Homo sapiens: one gene and its partner. The protein of the gene in region 1 interacts with the protein of each later gene in a pairwise test. Each region holds a gene or a part of one and is shown in the gene's direction. Other genes may lie near its edges.

The links.
Region 2: the proteins of TBC1D4 (region 1) and U2SURP interact in a two-hybrid assay, tested with the Homo sapiens proteins (one study listed by BioGRID and IntAct).

What each region holds. Positions count from the first base shown.
Region 1 is NC_000013.11:75,297,170-75,304,169, reverse strand, and holds part of TBC1D4 (TBC1 domain family member 4), read left to right. Parts: intron 1-1,768; coding exon 1,769-1,927; intron 1,928-4,595; coding exon 4,596-4,840; intron 4,841-7,000.
Region 2 is NC_000003.12:143,003,775-143,012,785, forward strand, and holds part of U2SURP (U2 snRNP-associated SURP motif-containing protein), read left to right. Parts: intron 1-7,040; coding exon 7,041-7,085; intron 7,086-8,447; coding exon 8,448-8,579; intron 8,580-9,011.

The sequences.
Region 1 (7,000 bases):
ATTGATTCATTCAACAAATGTATAAGCAGCAAGGTATATTCTTGGATTTTATCATACAGAGATGAAAATATGCTTGCTATTCTCAAGGACCATTTAAGCCGGGAAAAGAGACAAAACTTCAATATAGAGCTAACTGTAATCTAATATGGTAATGTTACAGTATGAGTCAAATGGTGTGTGAAAAGGGACTGATTACATCTCGAGATGTTAGGGAGAGCTTCAAAAGAAAAGGTGACACTCAAGCTCATTCATGAAAGATGAATAGACGTACAATGGGAAGTCAAGCGAGGGAGCTTGGAATTCCATAAAGGCAACAGGAGGTGCAAGAAACTGGAGAAGTGAAAATAACCACAAGCGTCTAGTATACATCAGGGACTGGGAAGTAATGGTGCTTAAAAAGGTAGTTTGGAGCTATATTGTAGAGGCCTCATAAGTCATGCCAACGAGCCTCAGTTTCACCTGTCGGACAATAATACTTTCAGCTTGTACAAACTCTGGCAATCAGTCAGAAGAGATTACTGTCATTAAGCATTTCCTTAACCAGCTGGAGCAAAGGAACCCATTGCCGATTCAATGTGTCCAAACTGAAAACTCTTAGTGAGTGAAATAAAGTTGCCTGCACTGTGCAGAATTGAATTCTGTCCCTCCCAGTGCTTACTTCATTTCCCTTGGCATAAAAAACATAGTCATAGTGTCCTTGAACTGCTTGTGATACATTTTGGTGTTCAAGCATACTAGAGTTAATGTTTCATTATATGTGCTAAGCATTTTCTTTTCAAAGCCCGAATGTTGTTCTGGAGCATATCAGTTACGCCTTCTTATTGTTTACTACTTATATTATTTCTTTTTTTTTTAGACAGAGTCTCGCTGTGTCTCCCAGGCTGGAGTGCAGTGGTGAGATCTCAGCTCACTGCAACCTGTGTCCCCCAGGTTCAAACGATTCTCCTACCTCAGCCTCGCGAGTAGCTGAGATTACAGGTGCATGCCACCATGCTCGCTAATTTTTGTATTTTTAGTAGAGGCAGGGTTTCACCATGTTGGCCAGGCCGGTAATGAACACCTGACCTCAAGTGACCCACCCACCTTGGCCTCCCAAAGTGTTGGGATTACAGGCATGAGCCACCGTACCTGGCCTATTCTTTCATTTTTAATGCCCATATAAGAATGCTATTTGATTCTCTATTATAAAGTTACTTGTTGATGACAAATATTTAGAGTTGTAAATTAGGTTTAGCATTTGTTGCTATCCTCAAGCCAGATAAAGAGTGAAAATAGGCAGTAATACACTTTGGGATATCAGGATTTGGCCTCTGAAACCAGACTTTTGGAGTTCTAATTCTAAACTGCCACTTCCTAGCCATGTGAACTTGGGGCAATTACTTCATCTCTTTCTGCCTCAGCTTTCTGTCTATAAAGTGGACCTAATAGTAATTGCCTACCTTATAGTTGAGTTGTTTTCTGAGTGCATGTGCTTAGTAGCTAGGCACCCTCAATAAATGTTTTATTAATGCTCAGTCAGCAACGGGTGATGTTATTGTTAATATTGTCATTATCGTAAGTGTTGCGTGAGGGTTTTCTTTTGCAAGGCATCAAGAGCTATAGGATTCAGCTTGTCAAAATATGCTTCTGTCAATTATATTGTGTGGTCTTAGGGTGGCATGCAGTACATACAGCTGCCTGTTTACCAGAATTATATAGTGAATCAGCTGGGATCTATCAACTTCATTCCAGAGTTCAAGGCCTTGGTTATTTATCTCCTTCATTGTAGGAGTTCCCAAAAGTCGACGAGGAGAAATTTGGCAGTTTCTGGCTTTACAGTACCGACTCAGACACAGATTGCCTAATAAACAACAGCCTCCTGACATATCCTATAAGGAACTTTTGAAGCAGCTCACTGCTCAGCAGCATGCGATTCTCGTGGATTTAGGTATGTTTGTCATGTGGATTATAATTTACAAAAGTAAACAGCTGATCCCTCTGTTAAGTTTTTTTGGTTTTTGTTTGTTCTTGGTGCTGATAAAGAGCACCTGTTGGCATATGCAGAGCCGTTGACTTTGTCCTTTACTGAGGGCAAGTTGGCCTTATACCTGATTGACGATCCCATAAATGCCTGCGTGTTAAATGAAGTTTTCACCCCAAAACTTTGCCTCTGCAAAGGGAGCCATCTTATATTTAAATTATTATAAAGGTCATATTATGGGGTGCTCTCAGTTACTGCATTTTGAACAACTGACTTTTTAGGGCAGATAGTTGTATCTTAATCAATGCTGGTTTTGAAATAGCTTAGAATAGGTTAAAAATTTAACAAAGGTGTACTAGGTATTCCTGGACACACTGCTGAAAACAATCCTTTATATGTCACTTTAAAAAGCAGCATGATAAATGGTTATGTTGGTGGAAATTATGACTATACACCTATAGGGTGAGTGAAACATTAGTTGCACTAATAGTGTAGGAATGGGTACTCATGACCTGGCGGAGAATTTCCAGTGACAGAATCATAAAGCAGTCTTTTTTTTTTTTTTGAGATGGAGTCTCCCTCTGTTGCCCAGGCTGGAGTGCAGTGGCACGATCTCTGCTCACTGCAAGCTCCGCCTCCCAGGTTCATGCCATTCTCCTGCCTCAGCCTCCTGAGTAGCTGGGACTACAGGCACCAGCCACCACGCCCGGCTAATTTTTTTTTTGTATTTTTAGTAGAGATGGGGTTTCACCGTGTTAGCCAGGATGGTCTCAATCTCCTGACCTCGTGATCCACCCGCCTCGGCCTCCCAGAGTGCTGGGATTACAGGCATGAGCCACCGTGCCCAGCCAGCAGTCTTCTTAAATGCTGATTTTCAAATAACTTATGGAAATAAAAATGCTTTGATTTTTAAAGATTGTATTGTCTCTAATTTTTCTCTAACATACTTTATTATTTAAAAATATCTACATTATTAGATTAAATATTATATATTGGCATTTGACCACTTTATTTGTACTCCTAAAAGTTGATATATGTCAGGTGGCCAGATATGTTATTTGGGCCCATTTGGGAAAATACAAGATTACCTTATGTTTGGGGTCATCTTATATTAGGGCATATGAAAAATCACTAGCCAAACCCTAGTTTTTACCTCTGTTCCTTTTGGATGACAAATGGCTCTTACTGGGAAAGGACCCAGCTCAGTTAATTATTTTTTTGAGCCCAGCGGAATTAAAAAGGGGATTTTACAGAGAAACTGAAAATGAGTTTTTGTGCTGATTGTGCCACTAATTGTGGTCTTAGACATATTACCTTCCTTCTGAGCGTCCATCCTCTCTACTAAGTGGGGACATTGAACAAGGCAATCCCTATGTTCCCAAGCAAATCTGTGGTTCTCTGACCATAAATTGATGATACAATCAGGGTTAGTCACGATGTCCTATTAAAGAGAGAAAATGAGATCATATTACAGTCAGACAAAAATGGAGCTAGAATCAAGTTAATGGATAGAAAGTGTATTTATAGTTTTCCTTAGTAAAAATTTTAAGTGAGAAAGTAAAACCATAATTTTAAAAATTGCTTATTTGGCTCTGCTTGTAGCCATCTGTGTTTCTTCAGCATGCAATTGTTATTTTCTCATATCTTCCTCTTACTGGCTCTGCAGAATTAATCTTATTGGTTCCTAGAAAAAAAAATCACTTTTAAGCATATGTGGGAGAAAACATTTTAAAACCTGGCACTCTTGCAAGTTCTAAATGACATGAGTAATCATTTCACAAGGAAGCTAACATCCCCCTTCATTTTTGTGGCCCTAGAAAAATGCCCATACCAATATAGACAGCTTTGATGTGAAGACGGATTTGTTTCTGTGTATAGAACTCTCCTTTTAGTGATGCAGGACTCACATTGCCAGCTCAAGTGTCTCTGTGGTAATTTTATACCTAGAGGTATATTTTAGAGGGGAATTTATTTGAAATTGACTTGACCCTTTATTTTCCTTGATATTTTTAGATATTGAAAAAGAAAAGTGGTTTACATGGCTCATGGAGGTATTTTAAGAGCAGAGAGCGAACGATAGTTGAAAAAGCAGTTTTCTTCTGAATGACAGTCTGAATGTAAAGTCAAACAAACCCAAAAAGTCCCTCCAGTGTCATAAGAAAAGCAGAAATAAACCTGTTTATAGACTATGAAGATTTTCTTTTAAATAATATAATATGTCTTACAGACTTCTGGTTTCATTTAGAAGGTAGTCTTTATATGAATTAGAATTTGCCTTGCTTTATAGTCAGAATAAAATTTATATTCCATTTTCCTGGTATTTCTCCTGGGTACATCATTGGTTTGTGGATTTTTATTGTATTTTTTTTTTTTTTTTTTTTTTTTTGCTGGAAAGAAGTACTGGTTAGCATAAAATGTTTCCTCCCATATCGTATATGTGAAGATGGTATGGTGGCCTGGCAGAACTTGGGGTGAGAGAGGGAGAGACTCTTAGTTACATGGTGACTCTAAGCAACTCTCACTGGTTTGGGAAAGAGTGTCTGTTTATTCTTGGAGGTCACTGAATTGCAATTTCACTGTTGTCTCCAAGGCATGAGGACATTTCAAAAAATATTTTCCTTCTTTTCCTCTGCAGGAAGGACGTTTCCTACTCACCCTTACTTTTCAGTACAGCTTGGGCCAGGACAGCTGTCACTGTTTAACCTCCTGAAAGCCTATTCTTTGCTGGACAAAGAAGTGGGATACTGTCAGGGGATCAGCTTTGTGGCTGGAGTCCTGCTTCTGCACATGAGTGAAGAGCAAGCCTTTGAAATGCTGAAATTCCTCATGTATGACCTCGGCTTCCGCAAGCAGTACAGACCTGACATGATGTCGCTGCAGGTGAGGCACTTGTGCTTCCCGAGGAAGGTGTGAGACTATTACCAGAAATCCTGGCCCTCTTCTCAATTATTACAGTTCAGATTTAAAGAAATGTAGAGCCATTGTCTTAGAACTTGGGTAAAGATTGGGGCATGTTTTAGTTCACTTAGTGTGGGATTTGCTATTTAGGTAAACTTCTAAGTGTATGAGACCCAGAGGCAGAATACCTTTTCCATAAAATTCCTGAAGTAAGTAAATAAGTAATTTAAGAAAGGTAGGTGATGAGGACCCAGTCCTTTATGCCCTAAGTCTATGGGTTACATGGAGAAGGTATCAAATCATCTTTATTCACTTTTTCTCAACTTCTCAGTTGAAAAGGCTCACAGATCTTTTGTTTACAATCTGAAAGTATCTTTATCCCTTTACTTTTGAGTACACAAATAGCAGATACCATGTTATGGTTCTTTTTGAACTTATCATTGATATCTCCCCTCCTTTATCTTCATGTAAGATAGGCCTTTACAGAGGAAAAAGTGTGAAAGCCAGTGGTGCCTTTTCAGTCTGCTTTGTGTGTGTGTGTGTGTATGTGTGTGTGTGTGTGATGGAATCTTGCTTTGTTGCCCAGGCTGGAGTGCAGTGGCACGATCTCGGCTCACTGCAATCTCTGCCTCCCGGGTTCAAGCCATTCTGCTGCCTCAGCCTCCCCAGTAGCTGGGATTACAGGCAGGTGCCACCATGCCTGGCTAATTTTTTTGTATTTCTAGTAGAGATGGGGTTTCACCATGTTGGCCAGGCTGGTGTTGAACTCCTGACCTCAGGTGATCCGCCCGCCTCAGCCTCCCAGAATGCTGGGATTACAGGCTTGAGCCACTGAGTCTGCTTTTCTTAGCAGGCTCTGAAGAAGCACCATTAAGATTTTCCAGGTATTTTGAGTGGGGTATTAACTGCCACTGCTGTCTTTAGCCTACCTCAGACTCCCTGTTTGCACATTTCTCTCCTAGTTTTCACTTCTCTAAGTGGGTTGGTTGCTAATAAGCAGTTTAAATTTTGTCTATAGATACTTAAACAACCACTGCCTGGCAATTTAAAGCTTTCAGTGGTTAAAAATATAAAAGAAGACTTTAAAGAGGATTCTCAGGTTTTTCCTCCCTTGAAATGAGGTATGCATGACTCCCAGTTCATCATAATACTGTGCTTTAGATAAGAAGTAATAGTTTAAAGATGCTTTTAAAATATACTATTTTTTTCTGTTTCCCAGAGATGAGTTTTTTGCCTTTAATATCTCAGTTGCCAATGTATAACAAAAGAATTGTATTTTTAGTCTGAGCGTTATAGTAAATGATATTTTTTGAGAGTATGAATGGAGATGAAGTATTCCATTTTTCTTTACTTTCTGAAGGTAAAATTTTGACTGGGGAGATAGGGCTTTGCTATCAACATTAGGTTTTCTGGTGTGAGTTCATATGATTTGATTCCTCATTGATGACTATTCGTAGGTTTAACAAGTCAAATAACAACTGTGGAAAGTTTTATTTTTTATTCCTAAAGAGTTTACCTGTATCTTTTTATCTTTTTATCGTTTTTTTTTTTTTTGGAGACGGAGTCTTGCTCTGTCACCCAGGCAGGAGTGCAGTGGCGCGATCTTGGCTCACTGCAACCTCCACCTCCTGGGTTCAAGTGATTCTCCTGCCTCAGCCTCCCGAGTAGCTGGGATTACAGGCATGCACTACCATACCCTGCTAAATTTTTTGTATTTTTAGTAGAGTTGGGGTTTCACTGTGTTGGGCAGGCTGGTCTCAAACTTCCGGACCTCAGGTGATCCACCTGCCTTGACCTCCCAAAGTGCTGGGATTACAGGCGTGACCCACTGTGCCTGGTCACCTGTATCTTAATATCAGATAGGAATCAGATGGTCTTGTAAGGAATTCAATAATTCTGATTTTCAGAAACAACGGTTTGGTAGCTATTATTAGAATTTCAAAGATACAGGGAAGTACCTGTGAGTAGTGTTTGATCTGGGTCCACAGATAAAAGGATAATAGCTATCAGTTTAAAAATACAATGATATTTCAACTTAAAAATTATTCATCAATTTGACATTACAAAAATTCATGTAAATCGGATTTATACATTCATTTAATATGGACTGTAAGTACCAAGAAGTATTTTATGTCTATAATT
Region 2 (9,011 bases), on another chromosome or scaffold:
TCCGCCTCCCGGGTTCAAGTGATTCTCCTGCCTCAGCCTCCCTAGTAGCTGGGACTACAGGCGCCCGCCAGTACGCCCGGCTAATTTTTTGTATTTTAGTAGAGACGGGGTTTCACCATGTTGGCCAGGATGGTCTCGATCTCTTGACCTCGTGATCCACCCGCCTCAGCCTCCCAAAGTGATGGGATTACAGGCGTGAGCCACCGTGCCCCGCCCTGCTTCCCTGCTTTTTATTTCTAACACATAATTTATTAGAGAAATTGTAAGATCATTTTGGCTAATACTACAGTATTTAGAATTTCTAGCCTTTGATATCTGGTTTGATTTCCTTTCCTCTGGAAAGAACAGATGAGTGGCTTATATTTTACAATACAGATGGAGTGAACAGATACTTCTGTTTCATGATTCGTCGTTTTCTTTGGTAGTTACATTCCCGTTAATATGGATAGGGATGCTTATTATATTTCTAGACATTGGGAAAATGTTAATTTTAAATGTACAATATGGCAAAATTATTAACATTTCTTAATTATAAAAAGATTAAATTAGATAACCTCTACAGGTCTTCTAGTTGGGGTGTTTTTTTTTTTTTTTTTTTTTTTTTTTTGAGAGGGAGTCTTGCCTTGTCGCCCAGGCTGGAGTGCAGTGGTGCAATCTCAGCTCACTGCAACCTCTGCCTCCTGGGTTCAAGCAATTCTTCTGCCTCAGCCTCCCGAGTAGCTGGGACTACAGGCGCCTGGCCAATTTTTGTATTTTTAGTAGAGATGGGGTTTCATCTGTTGGCCTCTTGACCTTGTGACCCCCCCCCCCCGCCTCGGCCTCCCAAAGTGCGGGGATTATAGGCGTGAGCCACCGTGCCTGGCTTCTAGTTTTAAAATGATACTTTATGTATGTGTATGTACTTGAATGACTTACCTTTATTCATAATTGTCCCTAATGAAGAGACCCCTGTGCACTTTAATTTTCTGTGTAATTTTGTTGTGCTTTGCATTTTAGAGCCTGGCAGATGTAGACATTTAACAAATGTTCTAGAAATGAGCTAAAATTTTCCTGTGCATTTGTTTGTTTATCACTAGTCTAAAATATTGCTTGGTTGGGGAGGGGTGTTGATGTTATGTAGTAGCTTTCATTTTGAGAGGAGAGAGAGAGAGCCTGTAATTGTTTACTTATAAAATTGTTAAGCATATTTCCTTAGAATTTAATTTATAAAAAAATTACTGTTTTTGACTGTCAATTGTTTGCTTACTCAGCAAAATTAGGATATGAAGAAAATGTAGTATTTTCTTTCCTTCTGCCATCTCCTGTGCTGGTAATATTGCTAATGTAATGTAATTGTGTGCCCTGCTATTTCACTCTGTGACTATGGCTTTTTTTTTTTTTTTCTTTTTTGCCGTATCGCCAAAAATTGAGTTAGGTGAATGGATAAAACAAAATACTACAGGCTTCCTTGGACATCCAGTGCTGAATTGCTTTGGGAACTGTTTTGATTGACTGCCTTTGCTGATTAACAAAAAGTATCACTTTTAAGAAATAAGTAAACTGAGGACCTGTTCAAGGCTTGTGAACCTTAGGTATTTATTACTGCCAGTTTTCATTTTTTGTGGTACCTGAAAGTTTATGAAAAAGTCCAAACAAAATACAAACCTTGAAAATCAGGCTTTCAAACAGTTTGCCAATTTTAAACTGAATCTTTATTATGGTTTATGGTTGTAACCTTATCTTAAAATGTAAGGTAGTTTTTTTGGTAGAAGGTTTTGTTTTGGTCTGGAAGGTAGAACTGAACTTCCTTCCATTTTCTCGATTGATAACTTTTTCGAAACTTGAACCTGCAGCACGGGTGCTAGAATATGCCTGTTGGTATGGTTTTAAAAATAATTCCTATCTTTCTGGATTGAATTGTTTTCTGAAAGTCCAGTTTTTATTTTCACTTTTTGTTTTTTATTTCTGAAGCTTTGTTTTCCTTGGAAAGTAAACCTAAGAAAGATACCCATTTGCCTTACTGGGTATCATTGAGAGAAGAGCTCATTTAGTATGCCGGTTGAAGTATCTACCCCTCTACCCTCCACCCTTTTTTTCAAGGAGCCATCATTTTTGGAATAAAAAGAAAAACTTGCTACAAGATATTAAAATCAAAAATAGTAATATTACAAACTATTTGCCTCATTCTAGTATAGGTGGTTTTAACATTTTATTGCACATCAGCTGTGAGCTGGATATTTTGCTGAAATAACGTTTTTGAAAGCAAGATACATTTGTCAGTAGCACTTGAGGCTAACGGTAGTGTTAGACATATATTCCTTGAGTTAAGTTTTTTCACAAGGCCCTTCCTCAGTTTAGATAAACTATAGGTTATTCAGAGTGTACTTACAACTTTTCATATAGTATTGGTAGTGTTTTGAATAATTTAAAAAATCATCTTAGGTTTGTTATTTAACTTTATTTATATAGTGCTTGTATTAATGATTTTGTGAATGTTTTTTAAAGATGGATACCTTGATTTGGCTTGGATAGTGGTATTAAGCTAGGTAGCTGTTGTTAATGAGTGGACAGCATAGTATGTTGATAGTGTGGAGTGTAATTTTGTTTGGTGGTAGGCACTTGTTCTGACAAGTCAAGTATATTGAGACTCTGTCGCTTGCCAGATCTTGTGCTTGATGTTGAGTTAGAAAATGTTAAATAAGAATGTACCCATTTTTAGCGGCCGGGCACAGTGCCTCCCGCCTGTAATCCCAGCACTTTGGGAGGCCAAGGCGGGTGGATCACCTGAGGTCGGGAGTTCAAGACCAGCCTGACCAATATGGAGAAACCCCATCTCTGCTGAAAATACAAAATTAGCTGGGCATGGTGGCACATGCTACTCGGGAGGCTGAGGCAGGAGAATCGCTTGAACCTGGGAGGCGGAGGTTGCCGAGAGCCGAGATCATGCCATTGCACTCCAGCCTGGGCAAAAAGAGCGAAACTCCGTCTCAAAAAAAAGAATGTACCCATCTTTGAGGAGCATGCTGTCTAGTAGAAGAGAGTCAGCACAATGCAATTAAGGTGGTGTTATGCTTCCTATAGGAGAGATTGTTAAACTTGTGGAGATGAAAGTTGCTTCTCTTAGAGGGTGAGAGGAGAAACGTGGGAGATTAGGAGACAGATACACGAATGGAGAGCTCACTAGGCAGAATGGTAGTGTTGGAGGAATGTTGCTGTGGATAGCTTGGTAATTTGGAAACTCAGATGTGGGGTTTTCACTTAAAGTAAAATTGGAGCAGCCAGAAGAAAACTAGTTTTGTTCTCAGCCAGCAAGCTATAGGGCAACAGGTAGTGTAGTTGGCTTCACTTTTATCCCTTTAGCAGCCATCAGAATGATCTTTTTTCCTTTTGGATTTTCTTGCTGTCCCTCCCCACATTTCTACTGTCTGCTTTCTCTGCCTTAAAATAAATTTCTCTTGTGTATGCTACTTTATTGTGTCAAACTTCCCTTAGTCTGCCTTTTCACTTCTTCCTTTTGTATTTTTCTTTTCTTTTCTTTTTTTTTTTTTCCAGAGACAGGGGTTCTTGCTATGTTGCCCAGGCTGGTCTTGAACTCCTGGCCTCGAGCAGTCGTCCCACCTCAGCCTCCCTAGTAGCTGAGATTATAGGCATGAGCCACTCCCTCCAGCAGCTTTTGGGTCCTTTCAAGAGATTTTTTTTTTTTTTTTTTTGAGACAGAGTCTCGCTCTGTCGCCCAGGCCTGCAGTAGTGCTATCTCAGCTCACTGCAAGCTCCGCCTCCCGGGTTCACGTCATTCTCCTGCCTCAGCCTCCCGAGTAGCTGGGACTACAGGTGCCCGCCACCGCACCTGGCCAATTTTTTGTATTTTTAGTAGAGACGGGATTTTGCTGTGTTAGCCAGGATGGTCTTGATCTCCTCTGACTTTGTGATCCGCCCGCCTTGGCCTCCCAAAGTGCTGAGATTACAGGCGTGAGCCACCGCGCCCGGCCGACTTCAGGAGATCTTTAGGCATCATTGGTTTGTGTTCTTCAGTTAAAAATAAAAAGCCAAACTCAAGACAAAGAATACAGTTCAGTTCCAGGTTAGGAAGAGGGAGAAGCTCAGCTTCTGAAGTAGTGCTATATTTACTGTTTACCTTGACTGTTATCTTTAGAAGTTGATGATTATTTTAAAAATTGTGTTAACTGCTGTTTGAACTGTTAAAGTTCCGTGCTGAATGCTATGTAGCTGTAGGTATGTATCAGTGGAAAATGTCTGGTTTGCAGTAAATGTGATTAGTGACATCTTAAGCTAACTGAAATCAGCTGGTGCATTGTCCTACACCGGTGCATTGTGCTACACTATGCTGTTACTGCTCTGTTTGCAAATTTATCAAATTGTGTAATTTTGAAAGCTGACAAAATTGTTACTTTTGAACTGATTATTTTTGTATTAGAGATTATTTAATTTGGTGAATGGTTACGCAAGTGAGATCCTTGAAGATTATAGAGCTTCATCTTTTGATGACTTGGAGTCAGGGAAGAGTTAACTATATGGAAATAGGCAGAATGCCTAGGTTCTTGTATCTTTTGTTTTTAAATCCTAGAAATGATGATTTGGATGTGGTGGCATCAAAGACTACAGAAAGGGTAGCGCTTTCTTAGTTATTCTTTTGGATGCTTATTCTTTCTGGGTGAACTTTAGAATTGTTTTGGCAATTCTTTTGCCCCCTTGCAAATATTTCCCTTTGGAATTTAGAGCGGTTGAATGAAATTGTATTAAATATGTAAAGAAATTTAGGTGTCATTGACATTATCTTAATATTGAATTTTCCCATCCAGTAATATGAATCTTTTGAAAAGGTGGCTTGAGTAACTGGATTTTTCTCGAAGTTTTTGTTTTCTTCACAAGGGTTATATACATTTCTTAAATTGGTTTCTAGATGTTTTTATATTTTTTGTTGCTTTTATGATTAGGATGTTTTTGTTGCTTAGCAAGTTAATACTGGTGTATTGGAAGGCAATTGAGTTTTTTTTGTTACTATTGTTTGTTTTTGATATGGAGTCTCTGTCGCCTAGGCGGTAGTGCAGTGGCGCGATCTCAGCTCACTGCAAGCTCTGCCTCCCGGGTTCACACCATTCTCCTGCCTCAGCGAGTAGCTGGGACTACAGGCGCCTGGCTAATTTTTGTATTTTTAGTAGAGATGGGGTTTCACCAGGTTTGGCCAGGATGGTCTCCATCTCTTGATCCACCCGCCTCGGCCTCCCAAAGTGCTCGGATTACAGGCGTGAGCCACTGCACCTGGCCCAGGCAGTTGATTTTTTTCAGTCCCTTCAGCCTCTTGCCTGAACTTGTTTTTCTTTTGTAAGAGTAGTTATTTATTCTTTTGGATTTTTAAATTTCTAGATATTTGTAAATTTATGCATTTCAAGATATGTTTCAGGGTGTGTTTCATAGTTAATAAATACTAAAAATTTTCTTTTATACCACCTTGACATTTAAGAAAGATTAGCCGCTAGAAGAAAATCAGGGTGGACACAAAAGTTGGGGACAGAAAAACCATGGACAGAAAGAGTGAGATGGGGCCGGGTGCGGTCGCTCATGTCTGTAATCCTAGCACTTTCAGAGGCTGAGGTGGACAGATCACCTGAGGTCAGGAGTTCGAGACCAGCCTGGCCAACGTGGTAAAACTCCGTCTCTACTAAAAATACAAAAATTAGCCAGGCATGGTGGTGCGTGCCTGTACTCCTAGCTACCCAGGAGGCTGAGGGAGGAGAATTACTGGAACCCGGGAGGCGGAGGCTGCAGTGAGCCGAGGTCGCGCCACTGTACTCCAGCCTGGGAGACAGAGTAAGACTCTGTCTCAAGAAAAAAAAAAAATGAAAGAAAGAATGAGATGGGAGGGGTCCCAGTGCTTGGTTGTCCTGTTGTCCTGGGCTGATTTTTGCCTATGCTAATGCGCAATACAGTGGAGTTCAGAGGAGTAAATTGATTCAGTGTAAAAATCTTACCAGCTGTTCTTAGCCTTATGTCTGGACAATGTAAATAAAACAATACTGTATGGATCTTTGCTCTTTTTTAAATAACATGAATCTTCAGTTTTTCTCTTAAACTAATATTTTATCTTGTACTTTATATGACATCTTGTCTGGGAGTTGGGGTCAGGTGAGATATTTGTGATCTCAATATTCTTGATTTCATTTGAACATTTGACACTTAAATATATAAATAAAAACAAGTAAAATTTCACTACCGTATACCCTCAAAAATAAAAACAGCTCAGTGACAGTTATATTTTGGATCCCCAAGTAAAAATTCTTGGAGAATCTTTCTTTCAGAAAGATAGCATACATTATTTAGTTAATCGTCCTACAGCTTGTCATCTTTGTCTTTACATGTGTAGTGGCAACAAGTTATTGCATACCATGTATAATCTGATAGGTAGATCACTTAAGAAAAGTTGAAGTTTTAACAGTTGACATCACTGGAAGATATTATATGAACTCTTTCTCATGCCACCAGGCAGCCTGTGACATGCTATCGAATCATCTCCCTTAAAACGAGTTGTAAATGGTGCCTTATTGGGGATTTGATAATATTTTCTGGAACTTTGCAGAATTTGTACCTTTTAATAGACAGCAAGGATTTATATGTGGATTTCTTTATGTGGCTTTGGGTGATTAGAGAAAGAGAGTTCTCGTGCTGTGGACCAAGAAGTTGCTGGGCAGTGCTGTGGCAGTAAACGATGCATCTATGATTAGGAAGAGCTTTTGCATAAAACTGTGTAAAAATGGTGGTTAGGTTTCCAGTGTATACTATAAAGAGGTAATTTTGCCTCATATATATCCCACTAGTGTTTATTATATTTTTGGAAATATGCAGGCTGAATTTTAAAGAAATGACTTACACATTTACTTTGTATCACAATCTTTTCATAAGTCAGAGACTGCCTTTGCTCAGTTTTATTAGCTGAGGAGAAATTGCCAGAAGTTAGGAAACTCTTAAGTTTGTATAACACGAGAGACATGTTTTGTTAGTATAAGACATTTTAAATTATTGACTTTTATTTTTGATACTTGTAGACGAGATCATCAGATGTTCATTCATCTGGATCTTCAGATGCACATGTGAGTATAGAAGGCAATCTTTGTCTTTTTTCCTTTAAAATTTAACTTCTCCTCATATGTATCCCTACATCAATGATTTTACTTGACAAATAAATACAATTGTATGTGCTTTTTTCTTTTACTCTTTTTTTTCTAGGCGCCTTCCTTTTTTTTTTTTATGTTCTGCTTGCATAACTTAGCCCTCTGAAGCGATGTTAGAAACCTAGTATGTATATTTCCTTATGATTTTTATTGTGTAAAAATCTGTACATACATAACGTATCTATACTTATACTTTGACTATGGGATTGCATTATGCATATGCCTTTCTCACCGCACAAAACATATGTTGGAAATCCCTGCAGGTAAACTGTTAACAGCTCTAATCTGTTCTTTCTTAAGGCATCATAATGTTCTGTGGTGGGGAAGTGCAGTTGTTTGTTATTTCTTTGTTGATGGGCATATATTTTTTGTTTAAAGCTTTCAAGTAACATTTTGGATAGATAATACTACAATAAGTATTTTTTTAATATATGTTATTACAGCAGTGTTCAAAGTGTAGTCTGAAGACCCCTGGAGTCACTGAGAATCTCTGAGAAGGGTCTGTGAATTCAAAACTATTTTGTAATAATACTAAGGCATTATTTATGCCTTTTTCACCATTTTGGCATTTGCACTAATGCAAGTGTAGCTGGAGGTACAAAAGCATTTGGTGGGTAAACTGTTGGCACTTCAGCACAGATCAAGGCAGTGACACCAGAGTATACTTGTAGTCATTATATTCTTCCCCACCAGGCACAATAATTTCACTTAAAAAACTAGCATAATTAGAAATAATTTTTACTGCTTGATGATGCAGTAAAAGTTACTACTATTTTACTACTTCATCAAGCAGTAAAAATTATTACTATTGTCTTCATCTTTTGTGTAGTTCGTCTTAATATTCTGTGTGATAAAATAAGAAGTACGTATAACACTTATGCTTACCAAAATGTGATGTTTGTTTGAGTTGAGAAATGAAACTAGCTGCTTTTTTCATGAAACACCAGTTTTACTTGGGAGTGACTGACAGGCAAACTATGGTGAATCAGACTTGGGGATTTTGGCAGACATTTTCTTGAAAATGAAGGTAACGAACCTGTTACTTCAAGGAAAACAACTGTTACCAATATAAAATTCAAGCTTGTGAGTTAGAGTTATTGAAAACTTTCCCTGTTCTTAAGAACTTTTTTGGTGAAATCAATGGTGATATTAAGGGATGTGATATTTTGATAATCTACAATGAAATTTGTCAATATCTGGCATGGCTTATTCCTAGTTTTCAGTGCTATATATGTATATATGTGTGGTTTGTTTTTTTCTCTTGTTTTACTTTTCCTGAAGATGGATGCATCTGGACCCTCAGATAGTGATATGCCAAGTCGGACACGACCTAAGAGCCCAAGAAAACATAATTATAGGAATGAAAGTGCCCGTGAAAGCCTTTGTGATTCTCCTCATCAGAATCTCTCAAGAGTGAGTATAGATAAGATAAGGTAAAGATAAGAAAGGATAGTTAATGATTTTAATCTGTCTTTGACTGAATTTAGTGGTCGAATATTTGGTTTTGTATGTGTTTCATCTTATTCTATTTGAAAATAGCATTCTTTTTGTATTTGGGATAACAGTAAACTCATTTATGTAGGGACATCTTTTTAGCTCAAATGTGAGATATTTCATTTTAGAGTTTTAAATTTTATTTGAAAAACAAAGTAGTGTTTGGATTTAAAATGGTTAATTGTCAAGTTTATCTTTCCCCACTTAAACATTTATTGAACCAAGTGCGAAATACCAGTTACTGGAAATGCACAGATCATTGAAACACTGTTCGTGTTCCCACTGAGCTTATAGTCTCACTCTGAAAGCAAACAGGAGCAGGTGCTATTCACTCTAATGAGTGCAGTGCCC